Linked DNA regions of Homo sapiens. The protein of the gene in region 1 interacts with the protein of each later gene in a pairwise test. Each region holds a gene or a part of one and is shown on either strand. Other genes may lie near its edges. The genes, in order: WDR88 and TYR.

Region 1 (15,760 bases):
CTAAGAGCCCACTTGACACTCTGACCCCACCATGCTTCAGACTCCAGCTTTGCCCCACACTGCTCCATGATCCGGCCCAGGCCTTTGCAAGCACTGTTCCTTCTTCCTGGAGTGCTCTTCCATTTCTGCTTCCCTTGCTGGCTTTTCGGGCCCTTCCTGGACCCCTCAGGGTGGCCAGGCTTATGTTGTCTGGGCCTTGGTGGCCCGTGCACTCATCTCATGATCTGTGGCATGTGGCAGGTCGTTGCCTGGTCCGGGGTGTCTCCTCCATCAGACTGGCAGCTCTGCGGGGGCAGGGAACCTGCTGTGCTCCCGGTTCAAAGCCTGGGACATAGTAGTCACTCAGGAATGTTTGTGCAGGTGTGTAGCTCCTGATGAAAACTGGAATTGTGTTTTGTAATCGTCACTGGCTGGGGAAGTCGTGGGAGTCCTCCAGCCCAGCAGGTGGAAGGCGTGGTCTCAAGTCCCTTTCCTCCGTGTTCTGCAGATCATCACACAAGGTCCATCACGTCATGCTGCTTTGACCCCGACAGCCAGAGGGTGGCTTCTGTCTCATTGGACAGGTGCATCAAGATCTGGGATGTTACATCCCAGGCCACGCTGCTCACCATCACTAAGTGAGTTGGACCCCAGGAGGCCAGAAGGGAGTTTGGGTGGGGCGTCCCCATTCATGACTTCCTGAATTCCACATAAGCCAGCATCCATGTGGACACGTCTGTAGCTTGGTCATAGGTGCTCTGAGGAGGCTGGGGACAGGCAGGCAGGAGGGAGCCATCAGCTGTGGCCTGTGGGCTGGGCTGGGCCTCAGATGCATTTGTTTCAATGTGAGCCACTAGTGGAAATCATTGTGCAGAGAAGTCCACAAAAGGTGAAGTTCCAGCATCTCCTGTAAAATGGGAAGGTCTGGCTGGGCGTGTGGCTCATGGCTATAATCCCAGAGCTTTGGGAGGCCAAAGTGGGAGGATCACTTCAGGCCAGGAGTTCAACACCAGCCTGGGCAATGTCACAAGACCCCATCTCTACAAAAAATTTAAAAATTAGCTGGGTGTGGTGTCACACACCTGTAGTCCCAGCTACTCAGGAGGCTGAGGCTGGAGGATTGCTTGAGCCTAGGAGTTTGAGGCTGCTGTGAGCTATGATTGCACCACTGCACCCCAGCCTGGACAATGAAGTAAGACCCTGTCTAAAAAAAATAAATAAATAAAGTGAATTCAGTCGTTTTGGAGATATTACATTATCATTTAAAAAAATTTTGGGGCTGGGCTCGGTGGCTCATGCCTGTAATCCCAGCACTTTGGGAGGCCGAGTGGGGCGGATCACCTGAGGTCAGGAGTTCGAGACCAGCCTGGTCAACATAGTGAAACCCCACCTCTAGTAAAAATACAAAACTTAGCTGGGCGTGGTGGCGGGCACCTGTAATCCCAGCTATTCAGGAGGCTGAGGAAGGAGAATAGCTTGAATCCGGGAGGTGGAGGTTGCAGTGAGCCAAGATTGTGCCACTGCACTCCAGCCTAGGTGACAGAGTGAGACTCTGTCTCAAAATATATATATATATATATACACGCACACAACATAAAACATGATATTTTAACCATTTTTAAGTGTGCAATTCTCTGCCATTCATTACATTCACAGTGTTGTGCAACCATCACCACTATTTATTTCCAAAATGATTTCATCATCTCAGACAGAAGCTCTTACCCGTTAAGCAATAACTCCCCATTCCCCATGCCCCCAGCCCTGGGTAATGTTTATTCTACTTTCTGTCTCTATGAATCTGCCTATTCTAGATATTTCATATAAGTAGAGTCATACATTATTTGTCCTCTTGTGATTAGGTTATTTCACTTAAAATAATGTCCTCAAGGTTCATCTGTGTTGTAGCCTGCATCAGAACATCAGAACTTCATTCCTTTTTTTTCCTTTGAGACTTAGTCTCGCTATGTCCCCCAGGCTGGAGTGCAGTGGTGCCATCTTGGCTCACTGCAACCTCTGCCTCCTGGGTTCAAGTGATTCTCCTGCTTCAGCCTCCTGAGTAGCTGGGATTACAGGCGCCCACCACCACACCTGGCTAATTTCTGTATTATTAGTAGAGACGGGGTTTCATCATGTTGGCCAGGCTGGTCTCAAACTCCTGACCTTGTCATCCACCCACCTCGGCCTCCCACAGTGCTGGGATTAAGAACTTCATTCCTTTTGATGACTGAATAGTACTGCATTATAGGTGTACATACCACATTTTGTTTATCTGTTCATCTGTTGATGACCTCTTAGGCTGTTTCTACCTTTTAGTTATTGGGAATAATGCTGCTATGAACACATGTACATGTAACTTTGAGTTCCTGCTTTCAATTCTTTTTATTTTATTTGATTTCGAGACAGAGTCTTGCTCTGTTGCCCAGGCTGGAGTGCAGTGACGTGATCATAGCTCACTGGAGCCTCGGATTCCTAGGCTCAAGTGATCCTCTTGCCTCAACTTCCTGAGTAGCTGAGACTACAGGTGCACACCACCATGCCTGGCTAATTTTTAAGTTTGTTTTTTTTTTTTTTTTGCAGAAACGGGGTCTCATTATGTCTCCCAAGCTAGTCCTGAACTTCTGAGCTCAAGTGATCCTCTCACTTTGGCCTCCCAAAGTTCTGGGATGACAGGTGTGAGCCACTGCACCTGGCCTGTTTTTAATTCTTTACTCTGTATACCCAGGAGTGGAATTGTTGGATCATATGGTAATACTGTGCTTAGCTTTTTCAGGAGTGGGGATCTTGCTTATTAATTTTGCACTGAGAACTGAAAATGATATAGCCCGACCGACATTATGAATTTTTTAAATCCTCTAGCAAGATCAGCTATATCATTTGCAGGGTGCAATCTCGGCTCGCTGCAACCTCCGCCTCCCGGGTTCAAGCAATTCTCCTGCCTCAGCCTCCCGAGTAGGTGGGACTACAGGCGCCCGCCACCATGCCCAACTAATTTTTGTATTTTTAGTAGAGACAGGGTTTCACCACATTGGCCAGGCTGGTCTCAAACTCCTGACCTTGTGATCCACCCACCTCGGCCTCCCAAAGTGCTGGGATTACAGGCATGAGCCACAGTGCCTGGCCACACTGTGGTTTTCATTTACACTGTCATTCATATTGTTTTTCTCCTATAGGTAAAAAGTCATTTCTCTCTTGCTGCTCTGAAGATATTTTTGTTGTCCTTAGTTTTCTGAAGTGTAATTATGTGTCTGGGTGTAGATTTCTTTGGATTTATCCTGTTGGGTTTTACTCAGATTCTTGAATCTGTAGGTTTATATATTTTGCCAAATTTGGTAAAATTTCAGCCATTTAAAAAAATTACTTTTAAAGTTGACTCCATCTTGTCCAGAACTGTACGTGCAGCATAGCCATTTTCCCCAAACTTCTGTACAGGTGAAATGGCCTTCTACGAGAAGTGGGATTTATGTGAAATGAGAGTCCATAGAGATACCTCTGGTTTATTTATTTATTTATTTATGTATTTATTTATTTAGAAATTGCTATGTCTTTTTTTTTACTTTAAGTTCCAGGACACATGTGCAGAATGTGCAGGTTTGTTACATAGGTACACATGTGCCACGGTGGTTTGCTGCATCTATCAACACGTCATCTAGGTTTTAAGCCCCGCATGTGTTAGGTATTTGCCCTAATGCTCTCCCTCCACTTGCCTCCCACCCCCTGACAGGCCTCAGTGTGTGATGTTCCCCTCCCTGTGTCTATGTGTTCTCACTGTTCAACTCCCACTTATGAATGAGAACGTGTGGTGTTTGGTCTTCTGTTCCTGTGTTAGTTTGCTGAGGATGATGTCCCTGCAAAGGACATGATCTCATTCTTTCTCATGGCTGCATAGTATTCCATGGTGTATATGTACCACATTTTCTTTATCCGGTCTATCATTGATGGGCATTTGGGTTGACACGAAGTCTTTGCTATTGTGAATAATGCTGCAATAAACATACGTGTGCATGTGTATTTATAGAAGAATGATTTATAATCCTCTGGGTATACCTCTGGTTTAAACCTCAATGACAGTGTCTGGCTGCTGGGAGAGCTTGCAGTCAAACCTCCATGATATGCCAGCATGGTTCTTAGCTCACCAGGCACTGGGAATTGGTGAGGTTTATCCCGGATGGCCCTGCGAAGTTGACATTTCTTCTCCTTTGGCGTTGCTCAGTTTGTGCCTTTCAAAGAACCAAAATGGGTTCCAAAACTCTGATCTGAGCTCTAGAAAATTGTTTTGCTCAACCTTTTCTTCAGGTCAAATGATTGATTTTATGATCCAGGCTACTCAGAGAAAACTCTGCTTACAAGAGGAGGTGAGAATCACAGGAGAAAGACATTGAGGGTTACAAACAAAAAGTGGCAAAATACAGACAGGCTTTTTATTATTATTATTTTTCTGAAAAAGAAGATGCTTAAAAATTGGAATGAATAACTTCATTTTTTTTCTGAGATAGAGTCTTGCACTGTTGCCCAGGCTGGAGTGCAATGGCACAATCTTGGCTCACTGCAACCTCCACCTCCTGGGTTCAAGTGATTCTCCTGCCTCAGCCTCCAGAGTAGCTGGGACTACAGGCATGTGCCACCATGCCCAGCTAATTTTTATATTTTTTGTAGAGATGGGGTCTTGCTATGTTGCCCAGGCTGGTGTCAAAATCCTGGGCTCAAGCAATCCTTCCACCTAGGCCTCCCAAAGTGCTGGGATTATAGGCATGAGCCACTGCACCCAGCCAAATAACCCACAATTTTATTAATTAAATATACAACACTGAAATATACTTGAATAGCACTGAAGACAAATGAGGATAGGAGTGAGAAAAAGGGAGAGTGAATAGTTGGGGTGGAGAAGCAGAGGAGTAAGTAAGAGAGGGGTGGAACAGGGGGAGACCACGCCTGACATTGTTGGGGGAAAGATGGGGAGCAGGAGAGAGCCTCTGTGTAAGCGCCACCCAGCACCAAGCCCCAAAGGCTGTCTGTCAATCAATCACTCCTGACACCAGCTGCTTTTCCCTCCAGCGCCAAGGGAATACTGCAGAATCTTCCCAAATGAGGGCAATTTGTGCCCCAGTGGACATTTGACAATGTCTGGACTCATGTTTTGTTGTCACAACTGGGTGTGGGGGTTCCTGGCATCTAGCCAGGAGAGGCCAGGGATGCTGCTCCACCTCCTACAGAACACAGGACGGCCCCCACAACTCTGAGTGACCCAGCTCAAAATGTCCACCTTGGTGTGGTTGGCCCAGTGCCGTGGCTCACGCCTGTAATCCCAGCACTACTTTGGGAGGCCAAGGCAGGTGGACCACTAGAGCCTAGGAGTTTGAGAGCAGCCTGGGTAACATAGCGAAACACTGTCTCTATTATTATTTTTCTAAAAATTGGTGCAGTCGAGAAATGCTGGAACAGCGTGACAGTCTGAGCAATTCACATCTGGACCATGGTAGGCAGTGATCAAAGGCATGATGAACATGAGCTCACAGGAGATGCTGACCCCCACTTAGGTATGTCTTCAGGTCCTCTTGGGGCGAAGTGCTAGCATGTGCAGCCCGACCATGAGCTCACAGGAGAAAATACCCCCGGCTTTAGGTATGTCTTCAGGTCCTCCAGGAGCAAAGCGCTAATGTGTGCACCCCACCATCTGTGTTTCAGGGCACATTCCAATGCAATCTCAAACTGCTGTTTTACCTTCAGTGGCCATTTCCTGTGTACAAGCTCCTGGGATAAAAACTTAAAAATATGGAACGTCCACACAGGGGAGTTTCGAAACTGTGGAGCCTGTGTGACTCTGATGCAGGGCCATGAAGGTTCTGTCAGTTCCTGTCACTTTGCCAGAGACAGTGAGTAATTAACATGCAGAAGGCCTCCATTCCTGTGGGAGTGCTGGGCAGAGTTCTCCATGTTCCGTTCAAATGGACAGAGAGGCAATTTCCAATGATGCTGACAGGGAGGGCGGATTCTTCCCCACGAGAACAAAAAACCCAAGAGGGAAGACCACAGGTACCAGTTTACAGTGGTAGAAACTCAGCTCAATGTGGCGTATGCAACCAAAGAAATTGATTAATCCTGTAATGGAAAAGTCCAAGAGCACGTCTGACTTCAGGCATGGATGGGACAAGAGAGTCAATGCTGTTGGGAACCCAACCCTTCCACTCTGTCTTTCAACCTAGCTTCCCTCTGTATCAGCCTTTACCCCCAAGGAGGCAAAGATGGCCGGATGAGGTGCCTTATGCCTGTAATCCCAATGCTTTGGGAGGCCAAGGTGGGAGGACTGCTTGAAGCCAGGAGTTCAAGACCAGCCTGGGCAACACAGCAAGACCCTGTCTCTACAAAAAAATTAAAAAATTAGCTGGGTGTGGTGGTGCACACCTGTAGTCTCAGCTCTTCAAGAGGCTGAGGTGGGAGGATCACTTGAGCCCAGGAGTTTGAGGCTGCAGTGAGCTATGATTGTGCTACTGCACTCCAGCCTGGGCAACAGAGTGAGACCCTGTGTCTAAAAAGAAAAAAAAAAAGGCCAGGCACAATGGCTCATGCCTGTAATCCCAGCACTTTGGGAGGCTGAGGTGGGCGGATCACCTGAGGTCAGGAGTTCAAGATCAGCCTGGCCAACATGGTGAAACCCCATCTCTACTAAAAAATACAAAAATTAGCCAGGTGTGGTGGTGGATGCCTGTAATTCCAGCTATTCGGGAGCCTCAGGCAGGAGAATCGCTTGAACCCGGGAGGCGGAGGCTGCAGTGAGCCAAGATTGCACCACTGCACTCCAGCCTGGGTGACAGAGCGAGACTCTGTCTCAATATATATATATATGTATATATATGTGTATATATATATATATGTATATATATGTGTATATATATATGTATATATGTGTATATATATGTATATATGTGTATATATGTATATATATGTGTATATATATATGTATGTGTATATATGTGTGTGTGTATGTATATATGTATGTATGTGTGTGTGTGTATGTATGTATATATATATATATATATATATATATATATATATATATATATATATATAAAATTAAAGAGGTAAAGAGGACCTTTAGTGGTCCAGCTCAGCCTAGTTCTGGCCCCTGGCAGTCCTGGAGAAAGAGACCTTCTGTCTGATGGTGCCAGAACAAGTCCCAGGGAAGACTCCCATTGGCTCAGCTTGGGACACATGTCCATCTCTTAATGAATCACTTAGGGGGCAACGAAAGCCTCTGATTGGCCAGGTCTGGGTGACTTGCCCACCTGCAGAGCTAGGGTTGGGGTCAGAACCCCCTGATGCAGAGGGACTAAGAGTAGGCAAGGAGTGTTTCCCCACAGGAAATTGGGAGCTGTTGCCAGATAAAGGGACATAGAGGTGAATGGGGGCAGTGACAGGAAGCCACCGCGGCTAGCCAGCTCCAGGGAGGGAAGTGGGTGCTCTTGACACTCAGGAGCCAAACATATGCTCCCCTATCCTGGTGAGAAGTGGGGCTTGCTCTGTGTGTCTGGGGGCCTCAGCTGGCACACATGCCACTGGGGCCTGGCTTGAGAAGCACTAGGGTGCTTCTGGGCAACTTTCCCTCTTCAGCAGCACCCCTTGTCTAAGTCCCACTGTGAGGCACCCTGCCAGCTTCTGTCCTTGGCTTTATGGGGTTCAGAATCACATGCAGTTGAGCCAAAATTGTGCCACTGCGCTCCTACACTCTAGCCTGGGTGACGGAGTGAGACTCTGTCTCAAAAAAAGAAAAAAAGAAAGAAAAAAAAAAGAATCACATGCAGTTAATCATTATTATTCCTGATTCTGTATTTGTGAAGTCACCTACTTGCTGATATTTATTTGTAAACCTAAAGTCAACATTCATGGCACTTTCAAGGTCACTCACAGATGTGAAGAGCAGCAAAAAATCTAAGTCACCTCCCAGCTGAGGTTGGACAAGGCAACACTCTGCCTTCTTGTTTCACCTCCCACGTGGTAAAATGTCCTTTTTGTGGTCTATTTAGTGCCACCATTTTTTTTTGTTGTTGTTTGTTTGTTTTGCTCCCTCTGTTGCCCAGGCTGGAGCGCAGTTGCGCGATCTTGGCTCACTGCAACCTCTGCCTCCTGGGTTCAAGCGATTCTCCTGCTTCAGCCTTCCAAGTAGCTTGGATTACAGGTGCGCACTACCATGCCTGGCTAATTTTTGTATTTTTGGTAGAGATGGGGTTTCGCCATGTTGTCCAGGCTGGTCTTGAACTCCTGTCCTCATGTGATCTGCCTGCCTCAGCCTCCCAAAGTGCTGGGATTACAGACGTGAGCCACCACACCTGGGCTTTCTTTTGCTTTTTGTTAGTGATTTTGCTGTGTAAAATGGCTCCCTTGGCCGTGTGTGGTGGCTCACAGCTTTAATTTCAGTGCTGGGGGGGTGCTGAGGCGGGAGTATTGCTTGAACCCAGGAGTTTGAGATCAGCCTGGGCAACATAGTGAGACCCCATCTCTACCAAAACAAAAAAAAAAAATTTAGCCAGGTGTGCTGGCACCTGCTTGTAGTCCCAGCTACTTGGTAACTGAAGTGGGAGGATTGCTTGAGACCAGGAGTTTGAAGCTGCTGTGAGCTGATTGCATCACTGCACTCTAGCCTGGGTGACAGAGCAAGACCTTATCTCTAAAAATAAATAAATAAATAAATAAATAAATAAATAAATAAATAAATAAATAACAAATAAAATGATCCCTAACCACAGTGCCGAAGTGCTGTTTGCCGTTCCTAAGCGCGAGAGTGCTATGATGGGGAAAATGCATGCATCCATTCAGGCATGAGTTACAGCTGTTGGTTGTGAGTTCAATGTAAACAAATCAACAGTATATATGCAATAAGGTGTCTTTAAACAGAAACACACATAAAACAAAGTTACGTACTGATCAACTGATGAGAATGTGACCAGAGCTCGCAGGAAACTGACCCTGTATTTCCCCTAGGAGCGATGGTTCAGTATTCACTAATTCAGTGTCTGCAAAAACTGCAGAGGCCCCCAACCTTTCTGGCGCCAGGGACAGGTTTCATGGAAGACAACTTTTCCACAAATGGGAGCTGTGGAGGATGGTTTCGGGATGACCCAAGTGTATTACATTTATTGTGCCCTTTATTTTTATTATTATTACATTGTAATATATAGTGAAATAATTATACAAGTCAGCATCATGTAGAATCAGTGGGAGCCCTGAGCTTGTTTTCCTGCAACTAGATGGTCCCATCTGGGGGTGATGGGAGACAGTGACAGATCATCAGGCATTAGATTCTCATAAAGAGTGCACAACCTAATCCCTCGCATCCGCAGTTCACAATAGGGTTCATGCTCCCGTGAGAATCGAATGCTGCAGCTGATCTGACAGGAGGCCGAGCTCAGGTGGTAATACGAGCGATGGGGAGTGGCTGTAAATACAGATGAAGCTTTGGCTTGCTTGCCTACCACTCACTGTCTGCTGGGTGGCCTGGTTCCCAACAGGCCATGGATTGGTACCAGTCTGTGGCCCAGGGACTGGGGACCCCTGTCATAGAACATGACTACTGTAAATGATAAGAATCAGCTGTAATTGGCTTGGGGTCGTGGAGCCACTCCAGGAAGGGGTTTCAGTGTTGTCAGAGTGAGATGAGGTGGTGCCTCGCCAAGGCATCTTCAGCTGGCTTTGGGCTCACTTGGCTTGGAAAGTTGACCCCCATCTCCACCCTTTCATTTTCTGTTGCAGGCTCTTTTCTCATTTCTGGAGGGTTTGATAGGACTGTGGCTATTTGGGATGTAGCAGAAGGCTACCGGAAGCTCTCTTTGAAGGTACATGTGGCCAGCATGAGATTGAGGATCTGAACTTCCCTCCCGAGTCCTTCCTGTGCTCAATGCTGGTTGCTGGGGACACAGCTGTGAGTGACACAGGCCTTGATGCCTCTGTGGGCTGATGAAGGACAGACAGGAAGCCAGCAAACACACCACCGACTGTGAGGAGTGAAATGGAGAAACCACAACAGGGTGACATGATGGGGACAGAGGCGGGGGACCCATCCACATTGCATGGGCAGAGCTTCCTGGAGAAGGAGGTGTTTGAGCTGAGAACAGAAAGGACTACATAAGTGGGGATCTTGAAGAAGAAGGGCAGTCCAGGCAGATGGAACAGCTGATGCAAAAACCCTGAGGTGGGAGTGTCTAAGAACAGCAGAAGTTACTGTGCAGGCCTGGGCACTGTGGCTCACTCCTGTAATCCCAGTACTTTGGGAGGCTGAGGTGGGCGGATCACCTGAGGTCAGGAGTTTGAGACCAGCCTGGCCAACATGGTGAAACCCCCGTCTCTACTAAAAATACAAAAATCAGCCGGGTGTGGTGGTGCAAACCTGTAGTCCCAGCTACTTGGGAGGCTGAGGTGGGAGGATCGCTTGAACCCGGGAGGCGGAGGTTGCACTGGGCCAAGATTGTGCCACTGCACTCCAGCCTGGGCGATAGACTGAGATTCTGTCTCTAACAAAACAAAACAAAACAAAAAACAGAAATTACCTTGAAGAGAGACGCATGCCCTAGTGAGGCATGCACAGAAAGCTTGGGGTTCCAAAATGGGGATGTCAACTGAATGCTCTGGGCTACAAGTGAGAGGATGAGAGGAGCCCCAACTCAGAGTGGCTCTATGATACGGGGATGTGTTATCCAACACAGCAAGAACCCACAATTGCCTCATGCTGTGCCCCTGTTCCCCCAAGGGGCCCCACACCCCAGGATTTCTGCATACTCCCTGGTTTCACGATCTCACTGTCACCTTTGGCTGTGAATGCGTGCATCCCTGATTCTTGGTCTTTCTGTTCCCAGGGACACAAAGTAGACATGTGTCCTTGAGCAGCCCATATTCAGGTCCCTGGGGCTGGTCTATCTGAGCTGTCTTCTCCTAGGACTTGGGGAGACAAAGCGAGTTTCCTCACAGCAAATAAACGGATTAAAATGGAATGTTAAACCTCTCTGTGCTTAAAGTCCCTCTGTCATCTAGGCACAGTGGCTCATGCCTGTAATCCCAGCACTTTGGGAGGCTGAGGCTGGAGGATCATTGGAGGTCAGGAGTTCGAGACCAGCCTGGCCAACATAGTGAAACACCATCTCTACTAAAAATACAAAAATTAGCCAGGTGTGGTCATGCCCACCTGTAGTCCCAGCTACTTGGGAGGCTGAGGCATAAGAATCTCTAGAGCCTGGGAGGCAGAGGCTGCAGTGAGCTGAGATTGCACCACTGGACTCCAGCCTGGGTGACAGAGCCGGTTGTTCTATTCTCTCTCCTCTTCTCTCCTCTTTCTCTGTGCTCCCATCCTCAAATTCCTGTCCTTTAATTACACTAAGCGGTTTAACCTTCCCTCTGATTCCTTTTTCTCTAACCACACTATGGCCTCACTTTCTGCCTCTTTCCATACGGGGAAGGCCAAAGAAGGACAGAGATGCTGGCATAAAGCCCAGACATCATTCAGTGTCTGAGGCAGCAATGGCAGCTATCTGCTCTGAGCTGTTTTTTTTGTTTGTTTTTTTTTGAGACGGGAGTCTCGCTCTGTCGCCCAGGCTAGAGTGCAGTGGCATGATCTTGGCTCACTGCAAGTTCCGCCTCCTGGGTTCACACCATTCTCCTACCTCAGCCTCCTGAGTAGCTGGGACTACAGGTGCCCACCACCATGCCCGGCTAATTTTTTTTTTTTAAATTTTTATTTTTTAGTAGAGATGGTGTTTCACCATGTTAGCCAGGCTGGTCTCGATCTCCTGACCTCGTGATCTATCCGCCTCGGCCTCCCAAAGTGCTGGCATTACAGGCATGGAGCACCGCGCCCGGCCTGCTCTGAGCTCCTATGTACCCAAAGAAAACACCCCACTCCTTCTCTGCTTAAGCCACAGTGGATCGAGTTTGCAGTTATTGGAAGCGAAAAGCCCCCTCACTTACAGGGCCTCTGAGGGGTATTTCCTAGAACAAAGAATGCAAATGAAAACCTGAGACCAGCTGGGAATATAATATTTCTCCCCCAATCTTGCTAAACACCCGAGTACTATTTTAAAAAACCATACACAGTGGCACACACATTTGTAGTCCCAGCTACTCGGGAGGCTGAGGCAGGAGAATCACTTGAGCCCAGGAGGTTGAGGCTGCAGTGAGCTATGATTGAGCTGCTACACTCCAGCCTGGGGGACAGAGTAAGACCCTGTGTCAAATAAAAATAACTAAATAAATAAATATAGAATGGGTAGGGCGCAGTGGCTCATGCCTGTAATCCCAGCACTTTGTGAGGCTGAGGCAGGTGGATCACTTGAGGTCAGGAGTTCGAGACCAGCCTGGCCAACATGGTGAAACTCCATCTCTATTAAAAATACAAACATTAGGTGGGGTGTGGTGGCTCACGCCTGTAATCCCAGCACTTTGGGAGGCCGAGGCAGGCAGATCACGAAGTCAGAAGATCGAGACCATCCTGGCTAACACAGTGAAACCCCGTCTCTACTAAAAATACAAAAAATTAGCCGGGTGTGGTGGCGGGCGCCTGTAGTCCCAGCTACTCGGGAGGCTGAGGCAGGAGAATGGCGTGAACTTGGGAGGCGGAGCTTGCAGTGAGCCGAGATCACACCACTGCACTCCAGCCTGGGTGACAGAGCGAGACTCCGTCTCAAAAAAAAAAAAAATTAGCTGGGCATGGTGATGGGCACCTGTAATCCCAGCTACTTGGCAGGCTGAGGCTGGATAATTGCTTGAACCCAGGAGGTGAAGGTTGCAGTGAGTGGAGATTGCACCATTGCACTCCAGCCTGGGCGACAAGAGCAAAACTCTGTCTCAAAACAAACAAACAAACAAACCCCAAAAAACAACAACAACAAAAAAAATAGAATGTACATATATCACATGTCTTTACACTTTGTATTCCACCCTAAATGTTGTTGATGAAACCGAGGAAGTACAATGAGCTGCTCTGCTCTTTCCTTTTTTTTTTTTTTTTGAGACAGTCTCACTCTGTTGCCCAGGCTGGAGTGCATGATCATGACTCACTGCAGCCTCAACCTCCCCGGGCTCCGGTGACTCTCCCACCTTAGCCTCCTGAGTAGTTGGGATTACAGGCGCATGCCACCATGCTCGGCTAATATTTTGTATTTTTAGTAGAGATGGGGTTTCACTATGTTGCCCGGGCTGGTCTCAAACTCCTAGACTCAAGCAATCTGTCCACCTCAACCTCCCAGAGTACTGAGATTACAGGCATGAGCCACTGCACTCAGCCAGCTACTCTTAAATGTAAGCAACACTGGGTTCTTGACTTTTTGTTGTTTTTTTAGATATGGGACCTCACTCTGTTGCCCAGGCTGAAGTGCAGTGGTGCAATCATGGCTCACTGCAGCTTCCACCTCCTGGGCTCAGGTGACCCTCCCGACTCGGCTTCCCAAAAGGCAGGTTACAGGTGTGAGCCACTACACCCAGCTTGTTTTTGTTGTTCTTTCAAAATTATTTTCTCCACGTTTTCATTAAAATTTGATATTTCTTCAGGGCCATAATGACTGGGTGATGGATGTTGCCATTAGCAACAACAAGAAATGGATCCTGTCTGCTTCCAAGGTAAAAGTGGTCAAGCTTACAATATCGATCACGTTCGCCAGGATTGGTGATAGTGGAAGAGTTATTGCCAAGTATAAAATTCCTGGGTGGGTTCGGTGAGCTGTACCTGACCGGGCCATCGTGTTCACGGAGCTGCCTGGGAATGTGGACAGCATGTCCTTCTATGCGCAAACGCGATGAGTTTGGAGTTTCCAGGTATTTCTGTGTCTGTACCGTTGACATTTGAACTTTGTTGGAAAAAGAGTCTGGCTGGATCAGTGAGCAATGGAGCCAATGGGGGACTTGAAGGGAAAGCATCAACTCATGGATAAGCCTTTGACACTGCCCAAGGTCCGGGGGGGTCTCCCTTTCCTGCAGCACTGCATCTTGAGATTCCCATTCCACTGGCACATAGCAGCCAGCCCAGGATATCCCAACAGCTGTCCTGCAGGTGTGAACCCCGGAGAAGTGGGGACCTACTCCGCCCTCCACCCATATTAGAGCAGCAGTCCCCAACCTTTTTGGCACCAGGGACCAGTTTCGTGGAAGACAATTATTCCATGGTTGGGGGGCGGGGGATGGTTTTGGGATGGTGCAAGAGCATTACATTTATTGTGCACTTTATTATTATTACATTGTAATATATTATGAAATAATTATACAACCCACCATTATGTAGAATCAGTGGGAGCCCTGAGCTTGTTTTCCTGCAACTAGATGGTCCCATCTGGGGGTGATGGGAGACAGTGACAGATCATCAGGCATTAGATTCTCATAAGGAGCACACAGCCTAGATCCCTTGCATGCACAGTTCACAATAGCCTTCGTGCTCCTGTGAGAATCTAATGTGGCCACTGATCTGACAGGAGGTGGAGCTCAGGTGGTAAAGCTAGTGACAGGGAGCAGCTATATATACAGATGAAGCTTCACCCCTGCTCACCTCCTGCTGTGTGGCCCATTTCCTAACAGGCCACAGACTGGGGGGTCGGGGACCCCTTTATTTGAGCATGTCATGTTCTAGGCTAGAGGTTTCTAAATCCAGGAGACTGTGGGAGAGGCGCTGCCTAGCATGATCAACTTTTCAGAGAGCCAACTTGGAATACAAACATATCAGAAAAAAAAAACAACAAACCCATAATAATACAATATATAGCAAAAGATTATATGCCTATATGTTACTACTTTAATATAAAAATAAGAAGTAAAGGTTTACTTGAAATTATACATTATTTTATATTTTTTACTTTTTTGTTCCATGAATATTATTATTTAAGCAAAACAACAGGACTAGTGAACAGCGACAATTAGTAGTAATTAACAGTAGGGCAAATTAAACAAATATGTTTGAGAAAAATATAAAAATATTGGCCAGGTGAAGTGGCTCACGCCTGTAATCCCAGCACTTTGGGAGGCCGAGGCGGGTGGATCACCTGAGGTCAGGAGTCCGAGACCAGCCTGGCCAACGTGGTGAAGCCCCGTCTTTACTAAAAATACAAAACTTAGCCGGGCGTGGTGGCAGGTGCCTGTAATCCCAGCTACTCGGGAGGCTGAGGCAGGAGAATTGCTTGAACCCGGGAGGCAGAGGTTGCAGTGAGCCGAGATCACGAGATCAAGCCATGGCCCTCCAGCCTGGGTGACAAGAGCGAAACTCTGTCTCAAAAAAAAAAAAAAAAAAATTATGTTTCTTTCTATTCTTTGATACAGTACTTTAGTGTTACTTTAAAAAAAATCTTGGCTGGGCATGGTGGCTCATGCCTGTAATCCCAGCACTTTGGGAGGTTAAGGTGGGAGGATCGCTTAAGTCCAGGAGTTGGAGACCAGCCTTGGCAACATAGTGAGACGCTATCTCTACAGAAAAACTTTAAAAAATTAACCGAGTGTGGTGGTGTGTGGCTGTAGTCCCAGCCACTCCAGGTCCAGCTACTTGGGAGGCTGAGGTGGGAGGATGGCTTGAGCCTGGGAGGTCGAGGCTGCAGTGAGTCATGATGGCATCACTGCACTCCAGCCTGGGCCAAACAGTGAGACTGGTTGTGGTCTCAAAAAAAAAAAAAAAAAAAAAAAGCTGGGTGTGGTGGCCACTCACGTCTGTAATCCCAGCACTTTGGGAGGCCAAGGCAGGCAGATAGCTTGAGCTCAGGAGTTTGAGACCAGCCTAGGCAACGTGGCAAAACCCTGTCTCTATAAAAAATTAGCCAAGCATAGTGATATG
Region 2 (16,331 bases), on another chromosome or scaffold:
AATTTGTTAGAAATTTTAAACTTTTGAGAGTTGAAACTACTTCTTCCGAAATCTGAGTCCCTATCACAATTCACAATTTCTGATTGTCTACTCAAAACCTGTTGTCCTTTGTCTATGCCTAAGCAACTCCTACTGTGCCTGAATGTCTAATTATCTCTATGATACAGAGATTGTAATGCTCAGAATTAGGCCCCTGGGGTAAAGAAGAATCTAAACAAGCAAGGCCTTCTCCCCCTGACGACCCACCTGTCACATGAAGGTCCTCTGGGGAAAAGGAAGGAGGTCAGAGAATGACCTTCCCAGGTCTTATGGCTTGCTTTGGGGAGTTCTGGATTCTATGACCCACTTCGAGGGAGAAAAAGAGGCCAGGGGAAGGGCAGAGAGACCTTCTTGTTTCTGTGGCACTCCCAATCTCCTTCAGCTGAAAATACTCAGCACACCAGGAAGTCATCCTTTGGGGGTATCATGTTCTGAGCTCTGAGATAAGAGAATTACTTTACTGACAGTTTGTGTCATTATTTATATTCAATAAATATTGAAAGCCATGTGCTTTCTCCTAGAGGATCTGTACAGTTTATTGACATTAAAATGAGTTGGTTTTTTAAACTTGTGAAGGTTGTACATTTTAGTTCTACATTTTGGTTCATCAGCTAGTTCTGTTCTGAATTCATCCGAGGTTGTGCTGTCTCTCAGCAGCCATTCTTCAACTCTACAGTTATATTTTCCTGCTAGCCCATTTTCTCCATAACGTGTCTTAGATTATTCTTGCTGTTCTTATAAAGCATATTTTGCTCTTTGGTAATGCTATTTAAATAATTTTAATAGATTTTAATTACAAGTGGTATAGGCATTAAGTGATAGTAAAACTAGTTCTGCATGTAGTAGAATATATGTAATCAGGAAATTGGCTTCCCAGAGATCAATACCCTCTGCCATTAAAATAATTATAGACAGTTCAACTGAAGCAAAAAAAAAATATAAGTCATTCAACATTGTGGCGACCACAATTTTCTTAACACTTCAACAACCTATGAGGATCAGTTTTAGGAGGAGCTTTAGTGCATGATTGAGGTTGTGTCACTTACAAAGAACACTTTGAAACTGGAGCAGAGGGTGGCTAAAGACACATCTGTATTCTAGAAGCCTATCAAAAATGTAGCCAAGTAACTAAAGCTGACATTCAGAACAGATATGAGAATATAGAACATGAAAAGTATGAAGTCTAAAACTAGAAGCAGGATTAGTATAGTCCAAATGCAATCAGCAAGTAAAACTAACATTAGCATGGAAGATAACACAATGAAAATATCTGTGAGACATGGAAGTACGCAGAAAGACATGGCTCTGCAGTTTAGTAGTTGCTTAATCTTAAGCATAAACATCAGGTTATTTAACTATAAAGGGATACAATATGTACCTCACAGTCTTGTTTTGAAGACTGAATCAGAAAAAAATGCATGCAAAATGCCCATCTCAAAGTAGACATCCAATAAATAATGTGGAATGAAAATGACAGTTGAATAAATCCTAGGTAAACACTTGTCTCCTCCTTCTAGCTAGACTTCTACCAAGATTCTGGTATAATTCATCCCTAATTCTGTTCTGTGAGTCTCTTCTCATATTAGGCCTTCTCATCTTCTCTGCTCTATGCTGAATGTATGGATGGGTTCTGCCCTGCATGACACTTCATTCAATGTAAGAGCTAGTCTCATTCATACTTTTACCTTTCCTCCTCTAGCTTTATTTTTCGTGTGTCCGAAATGATACTATGTGATCTTAAAAGTGCATCCATTAGTCTAAAATTTTAAAATTTATTAAATAAGTAATGAATTCATGAGTGCTTATTGTTTATGTTTTTCTGCATGTTTGAAATATTTTAGAACATGTATTTTACAAAATAAGGAAAACAAAAGAAGAAATTGAACTGTTAATTCACTCATCCATCCATTCTCCATCTCCTAAGATATTTTTTAACATGCAATGTTCTAGGCATTTGGTGTGAATCACATTTTTACTCTTAAAGGATTCATGATATAGAAAGGGCATGAGAAATATCAGTAGATTTTATGCATTGTGGTGAGTGCAATGACAAAGGTTAATTGAGGGTAGAATGAGAAAATGCAAGATAGTCCTCCAGCTTATCCTCAGAGAAGGTCTGTAGATCAGAAAATGCTTTCTTGAAGCTATGACACCTGAGATGTATCTTACAGTATGTGTAGAAATTATGCAAGTGAATAAAAGAGAAAAACATTGTTTGTTAAGAGAAAGAACATGTGCTAATTTCTAAATTCTACAGAAGTATGACATCTCAGTGTTATTGCAGAACTTCAGTATCCTAAGGAACAAGGTTTTAATTGGAGAAAAAAAGGCAATTGAGGTTGCTAACATGAGAAGGAGAGACCAATTTAAAACAATGATATTTAATTATATCCAATAAAATACTTATTCCCTAGCTCTCTAGACCAAAAATAGCCTAAAAGTATTGAAAGCATTATAGTGATAAACACTAACAGCACCAATTTATGGTCTTTAATGAAAATGGTGAACATTTATTAAGTACTTAATATGTGTCAGACCTTATATTGAATGTTTAATATCTATTAAATTATTTGAAACTCCAAATAGTCCTGTCTAGTAGAGTTGAGAACACTCAGGTTGTGATAAGTGAAATTACTGAACAAATCTTAAGTATATGCTGATTCTCTTCCTCCTTTTCTCTTGCCATGGGGCCTGAGACTAATAACTGGCAGTCCTTGGATATTACATCAGAGATTCTGACTTCATAACATCAAATTAAGGGTCAGTGACTTATACAATTTGTTTATGCCCCAGGTATTTACCATAAGGTGTTAGGAATAATAGATGTTCAATATTTATTGAACAAATGAGTGAGTGTAAACTTCAAATATAAAGAGATGATGGCTACATATTTTTTTCTTGAACTTCAAACGTGCACACACAAATATAATCATAATGATCATTGACTCACAAATCATAATGTAGGTTGACTAATATCCACTAATTAGCAAAATATTGAACACAAATGCATCAATTTGTCTCCCAAAAGAAATGCACTAAATACACAAAACTTTAGAAGTCTTCACTACAGTTAAAAATATATCATGTTTAGAGGTTGTTAGGTAGCCACATTATTATTCTGAAAATTGAAAAATGAAGGACAAGAATCAAACATTTACCCCGCTTTTCTTGTACAGGGTAACTAAATAGTTCATGAAGAAAGTTATTCTTTACAAAAAAAAGGGGATAACCATTCTTGCAACCTTTAATAAAATACCAAATGTAGGATATACTTATCAGTGAAAATAAAACCATATAAAAGTTTGCTAGAGAATTATGTAATTGAAAGGACAGTCTGACATCACTTCAAGCTGCTGATAAATTTTAAAAACAAATACTGAGAAAACCAGATAATATGGTCCTCTAGTATATCAAAATAAGTATTACTTAACAATGCCTGTGAAGTAATTGTTAAGAAAAGCAATAACAAAATTCAACTTGTATATAATAAAATCTCTAGATCTAACTCCCTGATTGTAGAAAATGCAAGATATTATTATTGAAAATGTATAAAATGATAGAAAATACAGGATAATGAGCATGTTAAATTCATAGAGATAAAAGTTGTTAACCCCGAAATGTGAGAAATCCTTAGGGCAAAAACTCAGTTTCCTCTAAAAATAAATTGCATTTTTTTTTTTTTTTTTTTTTTTTTTGAGACGGAGTCTCGCTCTGTCGTCCAGGCTGGAGTGCAGTGGCGGGATCTCGGCTCACTGCAAGCTCCGCCTCCCGGGTTCACGCCATTCTCCTGCCTCAGCCTCCCAAGTAGCTGGGACTACAGGCGCCCGCCACTACGCCCGGCTAATTTTTTGTATTTTTAGTAGAGACGGGGTTTCACCGTTTTAGCCGGGATGGTCTCGATCTCCTGACCTCGTGATCCGCCCGCCTCGGCCTCCCAAAGTGCTGGGATTACAGGCGTGAGCCACCGCGCCCGGCCGCATTTTTTTTTAAAAAAGGAAACTTATAACTTAATAGAAATTGATAAAATAGATCAACCAAAATGCAGTGTATATACCTGTTTGAATCTTGACAAAAATACTTTTGAGATAATTAAAGTAAATTAACCATAAATTTGATACCTGATATTAAAGAATTATTGTTCTTTTTGTTTGAGATGTGTTTGTGTAAGATACGTGGTTTTGTTTTTATGTTCTTAATTGTTAGCAATATATACCGAAATTAGAGGTAGAATATGCTATCTGAGTTTTGTTTTAAAACATTCCAGAATTTTTAAACTAGTAGAAACAAAACAGAAAAATGCTGGATGTTGAAACTTGGAGGTAAGTAAATGCTAGTTTATTATATTATTTTTTACTGATTTGAGCATATTTCTTTCCACAGTAAATTTTTTTCTTTAAATGGTAGCTACTGATACTGAGATAATTATATTAGTTGTATTTAATAAATGGTAGCTACCATTATAATTGAAAGGAGGGCTGAGAAACAAAGACAGAAAATGGATTCAAACTACTACCAAATAAAAGAGCAAATACCAGTGATCTGAGTGAGGAAAATGAGGAAAATTGACCAGGTTAACACAAGTGAGTGGCTGAATAATCTATACAAATACCAGAAGTAGAGGACCAGTGATTGTGGCTAGTTGATACTCAAACTCAACTTATCTAAAATTGAGCCTATATTCAATTCCCATAAACATTTATCCTCTATTGTTTCTTATTTTAGTTAATGGCACAAGCCAAAAACCTAGCACATAGCCCTAAATCTTCTTTCCCTTCACTTCTTACTGCTCTTGAATTTATCACCTATGTATCTCTCAAATTCATTAACTTATGCCCATCTCAGAGATCATTACTCTAGTCTAAGCAATGTCATGTTTGCCTGGTTTACATCAATAATATCCTAACAGTAATCTCCACATTTAATCTAGCTCCCACCCCACATCTGTTCTCACCTCAGTAGCTTGAGTGAAAAGTTTTAAATTCATGTATCGTTACCCAAAATTTTGCTACAAAGCCTTTATGGACTATGAGCTGGTCCATACACACACCTTCATTCTTATATCACGCCTCTACCATATTGGGGGTTGCAGCCACCTTAACTGTCCTTAAATCCCTTGAATATACCAACCTACTTCCACTTTGGAGACTTTGCACATGCTATTCTCTCTGCCTGGAAAGCTCACACTCCTACTGTTCTCTCTGTCATCAAACAGACTTCTAGTGATCCCTCAAGTGTCACTTGAAATGTCACTTCTCCCATAAAATTATCCCTGACTATCCCTTCTCTTGTGAGACTAGAAAGGCCCTTCTGTCATGTTCCCTAATTTCTCTCTTTAATTTTCTCTTATAGCAACCTAAAAAGTAATTTAATCCAGAAAAAAAGTTATTTAAAGTAATGTAGTTAAAATTATTATTTAAAATCACTAAAATTAAAATAGTATTTTAAGAGGCAATATCCTTCCTGATGATAGAGATTTTTGTTGTGCTTACCATCACATTCCCATCTCTCCCCATGTCTGCAAGTAAATACTTGCAGAGTATTTACTGAACCCCTAATTCTACTTTATAGAGCATTGCAGTAATTTCATGTCAGGTCATACAATAATCTCCCAAAATAGGATAGGACCCTTTCAAATCCCACAACTGAAGATACCTAAAGAATGTACATCTAGAGTCAGGAAGAAAGCACTCTAAATGGGATTTAATATTTAGGAACCCAAGACTGGCAATAAGACTGAAGACTACAACACGTGTAGGCCAGAGGAGACAGTGGCCTATACTGGGGACAAATAAAGAGGTCTGTCCTATTTAAGAAAATCAACCCTGTAAAGGAAATTAATAGGACTAAGTACATTTTAGTAATTCCTCTAAGCAGGCTCTAAAGATTATGAAAAATAGACGGGACAGCAGACACAAAAGCCCTTAAAGAGCATGATGAAGACTTTCTAAGTTATTTCACTGGAAGCCTGATAGTGGGGCAAGTGTAAGGCAAAATTCTTAATTAAATTGAACATGATAAGTTGAATTCTGTCTTCGAGAACATAGAAAAGAATTATGAAATGCCACATGTGGTTACAAGTAATGCAGACCCAAGGCTCCCCAGGGACAAGAAGTCTTGTGTTAATCTCTTTGTGGCTCTGAAAGAAAGAGAGAGAGAAAAGATTAAGCCTCCTTGTGGAGATCATGTGATGACTTCCTGATTCCAGCCAGAGGCAGCATTTCCATGGAAACTTCTCTTCCTCTTCACCCACACACTGCTCCATGTACCTGCAAAGCCTGTTCTGTCTCAAAAAAGTTGTTTGGATGAGCCGTGACTTTTTTTTTTCTTAAATAATGAGACAAACTCCAGAAAAAGAGAAAAAAGCAGAGCAGTCTGACATTCCGGCATCATCGAAATAGTGATGGCTTTTCCTAGAATGCTTCAGCTAAGGACCCAAATACTAATGATCTCCTCAAAGCTTTCACTTTCTTTTACTTTTTCATTAATTTCAGTGGACCCCCAAACTTTAAGTATGGAAGAGGACAAAGAAGGAAGCTTCAGAGGGGCAACTTTGATTTGACTACTCTTTTTGTCACTCTTCAGCTCACAAAAGAGCTCACTTTAGTTCAAAACACAAAGTCTTTAAGCCCCTCCATAGATTGGTCCCAGGTTTAATTTTCTATGATGTGTGGAGGCCTCAGTTTAATGCTCCAACTTGATAGATGAAACACAGTTCCCACCTCTACACATTTCCCCTGTCTCAGGAGTTGTATATATTCTCAGTTGTCTGTCCAACTTATGCCCACTCTTTGAGATATTAATCAAGGCACTCCCTTGATAACACTTGCATATTATTATCAAAATTATGCAATTCTTTCTAATATCAGCCCACAAATACATCTCTTCCATTAAAAGTTTGACTTAATTATCTATACTACTCATTTGAAAACTAACATAGTTAAGTTGTATTTTTAGCCATGAATTTCAGTTTCCCTAGCTCACTATACACAGAGAAGGAACTTTTGAAATAATTGAGATGATCAAAAATATTTGCTGAAGAAATATATTTCTCCTTTTTCATTCACTCACTAATTGAGAATGTCTTTGCACAAAACACATTGCAAAAACATTTTCAAAAAAATTCCTAATTTCTAGAATTGATAGGAAAAACAATATGGCTACAGCATTGGAGAGAGAGAGAAAGGAGAGAGGAGAAAGGAGAGAGAGAGAAAGGAGAGAGGAGAGAGACAGAGGAGAGAGAGAGAGGATAGAGGGGAGAGAGAGAGAGGAGAGAGACAGAGGAGAGAGAGAGAGGATAGAGGGGAGAGAGAGGGAGAGGGAGAGAGAGGGAGAGAGAGGGAGAGAGAGAGAGAGAGAGGGAGAGAGAGAGAGAAAGAGAGAGAGAGGGAGAGAGAGAGAGAGAGCTCTTTAACGTGAGATATCCCCACAATGAAGCAAATCGCCCAGTTATCAAAGTGAGCTATCCTTAGGAGTTGTCAGAAAATGCATCAGGATTATCAGAGAAAAGTATCAGAAAGATTTTTTTTTCTGATACGTTGTATAAAATAAACAAACTGAAATTCAATAACATATAAGGAATTCTGTCTGGGCTCTGAAGACAATCTCTCTCTGCATATTGAGTTCTTCAAACATTGTAGCCTCTTTATGGTCTCTGAGAAATAACTACCTTAAACCCATAATCTTTAATACTTCCTAAACTTTCTTAATAAGAGAAGCTCTATTCCTGACACTACCTCTCATTTGCAAGGTCAAATCATCATTAGTTTTGTAGTCTATTAACTGGGTTTGCTTAGGTCAGGCATTATTATTACTAACCTTATTGTTAATATTCTAACCATAAGAATTAAACTATTAATGGTGAATAGAGTTTTTCACTTTAACATAGGCCTATCCCACTGGTGGGATACGAGCCAATTCGAAAGAAAAGTCAGTCATGTGCTTTTCAGAGGATGAAAGCTTAAGATAAAGACTAAAAGTGTTTGATGCTGGAGGTGGGAGTGGTATTATATAGGTCTCAGCCAAGACATGTGATAATCACTGTAGTAGTAGCTGGAAAGAGAAATCTGTGACTCCAATTAGCCAGTTCCTGCAGACCTTGTGAGGACTAGAGGAAGAATGCTCCTGGCTGTTTTGTACTGCCTGCTGTGGAGTTTCCAGACCTCCGCTGGCCATTTCCCTAGAGCCTGTGTCTCCTCTAAGAACCTGATGGAGAAGGAATGCTGTCCACCGTGGAGCGGGGACAGGAGTCCCTGTGGCCAGCTTTCAGGCAGAGGTTCCTGTCAGAATATCCTTCTGTCCAATGCACCACTTGGGCCTCAATTTCCCTTCACAGGGGTGGATGACCGGGAGTCGTGGCCTTCCGTCTTTTATAATAGGACCTGCCAGTGCTCTGGCAACTTCATGGGATTCAACTGTGGAAACTGCAAGTTTGGCTTTTGGGGACCAAACTGCACAGAGAGACGACTCTTGGTGAGAAGAAACATCTTCGATTTGAGTGCCCCAGAGAAGGACAAATTTTTTGCCTACCTCACTTTAGCAAAGCATACCATCAGCTCAGACTATGTCATCCCCATAGGGACCTATGGCCAAATGAAAAATGGATCAACACCCATGTTTAACGACATCAATATTTATGACCTCTTTGTCTGGATGCATTATTATGTGTCAATGGATGCACTGCTTGGGGGATCTGAAATCTGGAGAGACATTGATTTTGCCCATGAAGCACCAGCTTTTCTGCCTTGGCATAGACTCTTCTTGTTGCGGTGGGAACAAGAAATCCAGAAGCTGACAGGAGATGAAAACTTCACTATTCCATATTGGGACTGGCGGGATGCAGAAAAGTGTGACATTTGCACAGATGAGTACATGGGAGGTCAGCACCCCACAAATCCTAACTTACTCAGCCCAGCATCATTCTTCTCCTCTTGGCAGGTAAGATATGCTAGATATACGATGTCAGAGTAGGGAGGAACCTTAACAATCACTTCTTCAGGCAGGGTATAAACTTCTCACCTGAACACTCATTGCAGCCCCCATCAAGGACAGAAATGGTGCCCTGTTAAGAACTCTCAATGTATCTTGTATTTTTCCTTTATAGCACACTTTAGATATTTGTGTAATTATTTGTTTAATGACTTCTACTAGGTTTCTAAACTGCAATGAACAGAGTACTTGATTCATTATTGCATTTCCCAGAACATAGTATGGTGCCTTTAAAAATGGCAATAGTGCATTATGTATTTTGTGAATTGAATAAATGAGTGAATGAATGAATATCTGGATGATTAAAAAAACAAATGATATACACTAATGTCTCTGAAAAATAAAATTATTATTCACAACAGGATTCATATGGTGTACAAATTAAAAATGCAAATTCCTGGCCTTATCCCAGACTAATTGGTCAGAATCTTCAGGAGAGAGTCCCGAGAAGGCACAATTTACTAAATGTCTATGGTGATTCTTTTAATCAGGAATGTTTGGGAAATAATTATTGGATTAGATCTTCATTTTTGAAAGTATGAAGATCCTGAGGCTTAAACAGGTAAATAATGAAGATGGCTAATATTCATTGAACATCTAGCATGTGCAAACCCCGTGGCAAGTGTTTTTGTGCATTCGTTCATTTCATGCTCTTATCAGTCTTTCCCTATTTTAGAGGTTATAAAGGTATCAGGTAACTTGTATAAGATCATACAGCTAATAAGCAGCAAAAAAAAAATCACATTTATTCTCTAATAGTCCAGCTGTATGACCACTGTATCCTATTTCCAAGGATGTGACTGCTGTGATATCTTTAGCTAAAGGATCTGGTTCATTCTGTCTCACTTTTTCTTTAGGCTGCATTAGAAGTTAGCTTTCTTTCTCAGTCCTTGAAAACTTTAGATAAAATATGAAGCATTACTATTTGGAATTGAATTCCTATTTCATCTATTCTGAATTTTTCATTCTGAATTAGGGGCAAATGGTAACCAAAGAAATATGTGCTTAATTATTTATCATTTTAAAACCATATGTTAAAGGAATGCTTTTCTGCCTGTCTTCCAAAAATTTCTAATACAGCACTTTTGACTAGCAATGCTCTATGAAATTAAGCCCAATATGTGAATGGGATGGGAAGAATCTTGCACTCAATTTCCCACAATCTGCAGTTTTGAAATGTAGATGGCCTTCTCCGCCCAACCAAGTTTGTACCCCATCCCAATGGAGTCTACTGAAGTTCATTTAAAAAATAGCCACTGTATAATTTCTGGTGTTATTAGTCAGCTATTTACCAAATGTAATGGGTTTTGTGCAGGAAAGGCTAGAAAAAATGTGCTTGGAAAAAAATCTATTTCAATAAGCTTTCAGACCTCCTACCTTAATCTATAATGTGCAAACTCTCATCTAGCTCTTATATCCTCTGTTCCTGTTTAAAAAACTGCCAGGATTGGACATGGGATTTTCAGTCAGTTATGATGCTTTATTTAACTATGTGGCTTAACTTGACCCAGAAAGGTTGGAGGACTGTCTAAATTACCAAAATAAGCTGCAACATCCACAGGAAATCTTAATAGATAGATACACATTAATTTTTAATTACATGAGATGTGTAATACCAGATGCTATCCACAACTGTATGAGTATTATTTTCCTAATTACTTATTAATTGTCAAGCAGAACTTTTTCCTTTTTCTCTCTTCATGAATGTGTTCAATTTTAATACTCTCTAGAAAAAAAAAAAAGTGTGTCAAGTCAGTAAGCCCTGAACTGAAATTGATACAATTATCAACTTCAACCTTGTTCTATGATTAAATTGCTGTGTAGAAACAGGTTTCAAAAATAAAATTAGAAAACAGAGTGGAAGGAAGATGACTGAAGAGAAACAAGCAAACCACAGTTTAAGAAAGGTGAAATGAGCATTTGCTGCTCACCTACTATGTTTTAGTAGTGTCAAGGGCTTATTAGTGGCAAAGGTGACAGTCAAACCCCACTCACATTGGCTGTTTCCATTCCTTCACACAGCCTCTCTGGTTACAAAGTCCTTAAAATAGTTAAGATCGATTGCTTACATTGCTTTAATTCAGAGTTCTCAATGTCAAAATCACCTAGGAAGCTTCCAAAAAACCATTTAAAAAGTAAAAATAAAAAACTGTTGCAAGGTTTTTATGCACCTAATTTCTTGCCAGAAATTCAGATTCAGGTGGTCTCCTGTGAGGTTGTAAAGTTCAAGAGTCTTTTTTTTTGGCAGTGGTGCAATCTCCATACGCTGCAACTTCCGCCTCCCAGGTTCAAGTGATTCTTCTGCCTCAGTCTCCCTAGTAGCTGGGACTACAGGGGCCTGCCACCACTCCCAGCTAATTTTTTGTACTTTTAGTAGAGATGGGGTTTCACCCTGTTGGCCAGGCTGCTCTTGAACTCTTGACCTCAAGTGATCTGTCCGCCTCAGACTCCCAAAGTGCTGGGATTGCAGGCCTGAGCCATCAAGCTGGGCCTTCAAGTGTTTGCATTTTTAAACCCTCATTTTGTGATTCTAATGTGCAGCCAGCACTGAGAATCATTGAGTTAATGGAGATTGTTTTGGTATCTTTTTACTTTCACTTTACAAAAACGCATGTTCTGTAATAAACACACCATTAATTTGAATGCCTTTGTCCAAATTGAATGCTTAAATTAAGAACTAGACTATTTGTGTGAGATGAGATCAAATAGTTTCTAGATTGAGTTAAGACCTTCCAAATTAGCTAGGCTGATGCACCTTTCACATAAAGCCTTCTTTTTTTATTGGTTTCAGATATCATTTTACTTGACCCCAAAATTGAGATTTGAGAGATTTGATAGCATTTATTAACTCTGAGCTGAGAGATCTTCAATTTTATTTAGGGTAACCTGTGCATTTTATTAAAAAACTATAGAAAAGCCTAAAATGGTAGGATGATTGTCCAAAGTCACACATCTGAGGACTAAAACCAAGCGGCTCTGACTGCAGTGCTTTTTAAGTCAACAATGTTATTTCTTGTTTATAAGGATCCATTTAGGTTCAGAAGGGGTCAAGTAACCCGCTAATTTCTGGGTGTATAATTTGACATTTGATCACGTTGACTCCCTTAAAATTGTCCTGCCCCAGACAACATAGGCAGACACAGTGATGTAGTCCTTTTAATTTATATCATAATGAAAATATTCTGAGACTTTTACTGATCCACCTCTGTTACTCAGGTAGAGTTGACCCTCTCCCCGTCTTTGTGCTATCATTGTACTTTATACAGATTTGTATCATAGCACTTGTAACTTTTCATTACATGTAGTGGTTTTCCAGCCTGTCTGTATCTGCCAGCCTGTCAGTCGCTCCAAGGTGGTGATCATTTCTAAATATTTTTGTATCCACAGAGCACAGGACTATAATATACACATGGAACAGGCTTTATAAATACATGCTGAATTTAACATCAAAGAAACGTTAGCTCCAATGCTAACATACATAAAATATTAAACTCTGCATGGGTAGATTTCTAGGACCATTCACTGCAGTTTTTTTATAGCACTGGATTCCCAATGCCAAGGATACAACAATGTCAACAATAGCCACTTACTCAAATTTGGGTATAATATATCTTGTGTCGTTCTCTCTGGTAGTTCCATATGTATGTCTGCGTGTGTGCATGCAAAGAAAGACAATACAAGAGAGAAGATGAAGCAAGGTGCAACATAGCTGAGTGTGATTTAAATGAAGTTAATATTTATTGGTCAGAGTTTTCTGTTAAATATGTTAAAATCAGGTAATTAATTTATTTGGAAATATTGTGTTCCTAATTCATGTCTGTTGTTTGCTCATTTATTTAACTCCCAAAGCTTTAAATTAGGGGCCATGTTTATCATCAATTAAAATAGTTCATTATATTTGGAGGTGGAGGGTTGCTTAATAACATTTAAGTACAAACTACCCATGCTCAATATAATTAGATCTAATGTTATGCAACCAACAGATCAGCTAGCTACAAAAATAAAAGGGGTATCAGGAATAGGTGTCATCATGAACAGAAACAAAGAGGAAAAAACATTTCCTAGCTGATACACATGAGTGAATTGTGACCAGGGAATTCACTCATCAGGTGAAAAGCACATCACATGGAAGCAAAGAGAAGAAAAAAAGTCACATTTCAGCAGAGAGTCATGGGTTTTAGGTAACCATGACGACAGCTCAGTGAAATAACAGCTTCTCTTTTTTCTTTATGAAAAAGATTTTGTGGAATGTCATACGGTTTACATTTTTTCCCCCAGATAAACCTCTAATGCTATAACAAAATCTTTGCTCCCAAAAGCTTTTAATATCTGGCAGTTTATTGCTATTTCTTTAAATTTAAGAGAACAGTATTTAGGTTCACCTTCCTCATTAATATATCTATTTCTTCTATCTCCCCTTTTTTCTTTGACTTGGAACACTTGATCGTCCCCCCAGCATATGTTATAAATCACTTGCGTTGAAATAGAAAAAAAACAGAGTCATCATCAGAACATCCAGGCTCAAATTCTACCCCTGCCATTTAGTAGACGACATTGGACCAGTTATTTAAAATCTTTGACCTTTGTTTTTTCCAAAGAGAAAAAAAATGAGGTAGAATTACCATCTATACATGTTTTGTGTGTGTGCTAATAGGAGGATTAAATGGAATGGGAAACAGAATAATGTAGTGGAAAGAGTATAGTCTTTTCAGTCACATCAGCATGAATTTGAGTGAACTTTCATACTTACTTAGCTACAAGACCCTAAGTTACTTAATTATTCTGAGACGATTTTTGTCCCTAAAATTAGAATAATATAGGTTAAAGCATTACTGTGAAGGGATTCAATAAGATGTGTTTATATGGCTTGTTTAGGATCTGACCTATTGTTTGAGTTTCATGTGTGGAAATAATATATTTTTAAATGATACATCAAAGTTAGATATAATAATGAATATTCAAACAGTGTTATACACCCAAAGTTAAAAACAATTTGGTGACCTGCCCAATGGTCTTGTTTTCAAAAATAATTATGATAGTTGTCATTATTAAACACTTTACACTTGGCACTATGCTAAGTGCTTTATACATGTTAGATTATTTGATCATTGATAGAAACGTATAATTCCCATTTACAGATGAAAAAACTTAATACCCAGAGAGCTTAAGTAACTTGCCCAAGGCCATGTAACTAATAGGGTCAGTATTGGAAACCAGGTCTTTCTGACTAGAATCTTCATGATCATAAGCACAATGCTAATATAATTTCTCCTAGCCTGCCTCCTCTCCTGTATGCAGTGTAAAGACTAAGGTTTGGAGTTTTTCAAATTATTTCTGGAACCAGGGTAGATTTTCTCCTCGTTAGTAATACCTCCAGTCATCCGAACACTTAGTCACTTGGCAGTTGGCATTTCAGCAAAAATAGTTTCATTCAAGCCTCTCTAATTTAACTGAGTTGGCTGTAGGAGTCTTTAAGGCAGCAGGATCTTTTGAAAATATCCTGAGATTACTCAAAGAGGAATAAAAATGATTTAGTCTACATACTTGTAGCGTCCAGTTAACCCAAATTATAAAAGCATCCAACATATTACATTCAATGTAAAAGTTAGGTTAGTTTTATTCAACCATTCCTAAGCCATTAACACGTCATAATTAATGTAGTGGGTATTGCTTCAGAATAAGGAAACTTGTGTTTCAGTGCTTTGGTTTTGACTCTAAATATCATATGGCCCTAAGACAAGTCACTCAACAGTTCTAGTTCTCAATTATATATGGATAAAAGGATTTAGGAACGTTATGAGGTATAAGGCAAACTAGAAACTGGCATTTGTTGAAACAGAAATTATTTGTTGAATAGTTTCTTTTCGTATATTATGTCATAGTACAGTTTAAAAAAATTGAGATTTAGCAAGTCTAAAAAACATGTTCATTGCCAGTAAGAAAATTAGCCAGAATTGAAGTTGCATCTACCTGTATTACGGAGCCCAATTTTTTCTCTACCACACAATGCATAAATTCTTAAGTTATGTCTTAGTGACCAAAAATTAAGAGTAGGTTCTCTAAGCATTTCTTATCTAACACAGTAGCAGCCATCTATGGTGGGGGGACTGCCCATTCAATTCTATTTGAGATGACTACATTTGTTTATACATGCTTATAGATAGCAAATTCAGTGGGATAGGAGGACCAATAAAATAGTCTTGATTATTTTCAAATGTGATGCAAACAGTTGACCGGGAAGACATTTTACCTTCAAATTATTATTCTATACGTCTCGCCTACTGTTCACAAAATTATAAATCATAACATGGGTCTTTATATCCCGTTAGCCTTTTGTAGTCTTCCACAGTCTGGCTTAGTATCCTCATCATGAAAATAGAGATAAAATCATAAAAATCCACAGGGTAGTTGTGAGAATTTCTAATTTTAATGTATATGGAGATATCTCCCTTATGGCCTAGGACAGAGTAGTGACTCAATATAGGTTTAAAAAAATAAGTTCTAGAAATATATTCTATGGTAAAGGTGGTACCAACAACATGACCAAGAAAAATGAGCACTCAACACATACTTTTTGTAGGAGATTCTTTGGCTCATCCACTGACTCTGTTCATTCATCCAACAAATTCTTACTGCACATCAACAGGGTGCTAGAAACTGTACTAGATTCTGAGAGAAAAGAAATAAACAACAATGTGAAAATAAATGTGTCTTCATGAAGGATGCGTTTTTATAAGGGACGTAACAATCATTGTTTATTAGAGACGAAAATGAGTAAGTGTAAGTTGGGTAAAGAACAATGTTATCTCCCTAGTGGCCCCAAGCCTCCCACGGAAGCATGCACCTGTTGTGAACAGTCAATGACGGCAGGGTGGACTCTCCTGAATTTCATCTTTTGCTTCGAATGTATCTCTCACTACCTAATTACTCTATTTTATTAAATCTAAGGTATCAATGAATTTAAGTGATGCATTCATTTATGTACCACTAAGAAAAATAAAAAAATATATTTATCTTAAAAGCCCTTTTTGGCTTACGTAGTCACATATTTTTATCATAGTTTATTCTTCTGCCTCCATATAAATGAAACTACAAGAAAAATAATTTGGTGAAGGATTCCTGAAATGTTTTTACATTCAGAGTCAGCCCCTTTTGAGTTACTTTTAAAGTCAGAGTCAACAATGCCTGTTTTTACTAATTATTTGCTTTGGCCTTAAAGAATGGGTAGGATATTAGATGCATGGCAAAGAGTGGGCATGCTTAGCCACAATCAGAGTCATGGAATGGAGAAGCACAAGCAGTGTCCA

Evidence for each region.
Region 2: the proteins of WDR88 (region 1) and TYR interact in binary tests that used the Homo sapiens proteins (3 or more experiments, as listed by UniProt).

Annotation. Positions count from the first base shown.
Region 1 is NC_000019.10:33,150,694-33,166,453, forward strand, and holds part of WDR88 (WD repeat-containing protein 88), read left to right. Parts: intron 1-487; coding exon 488-617; intron 618-5,399; coding exon of another isoform or gene 5,400-5,463; exon of another isoform or gene 5,464-5,487; intron 5,488-5,661; coding exon 5,662-5,849; intron 5,850-9,077; exon of another isoform or gene 9,078-9,720; coding exon 9,721-9,803; exon of another isoform or gene 9,804-9,962; intron 9,963-13,503; coding exon 13,504-13,572; intron 13,573-15,760.
Region 2 is NC_000011.10:89,169,800-89,186,130, forward strand, and holds the start of TYR (tyrosinase precursor), read left to right. Parts: upstream 1-8,075; 5' UTR 8,076-8,154; coding exon 8,155-8,973; intron 8,974-16,331. UniProt on the Homo sapiens protein: This is a copper-containing oxidase that functions in the formation of pigments such as melanins and other polyphenolic compounds. Catalyzes the initial and rate limiting step in the cascade of reactions leading to melanin production from tyrosine.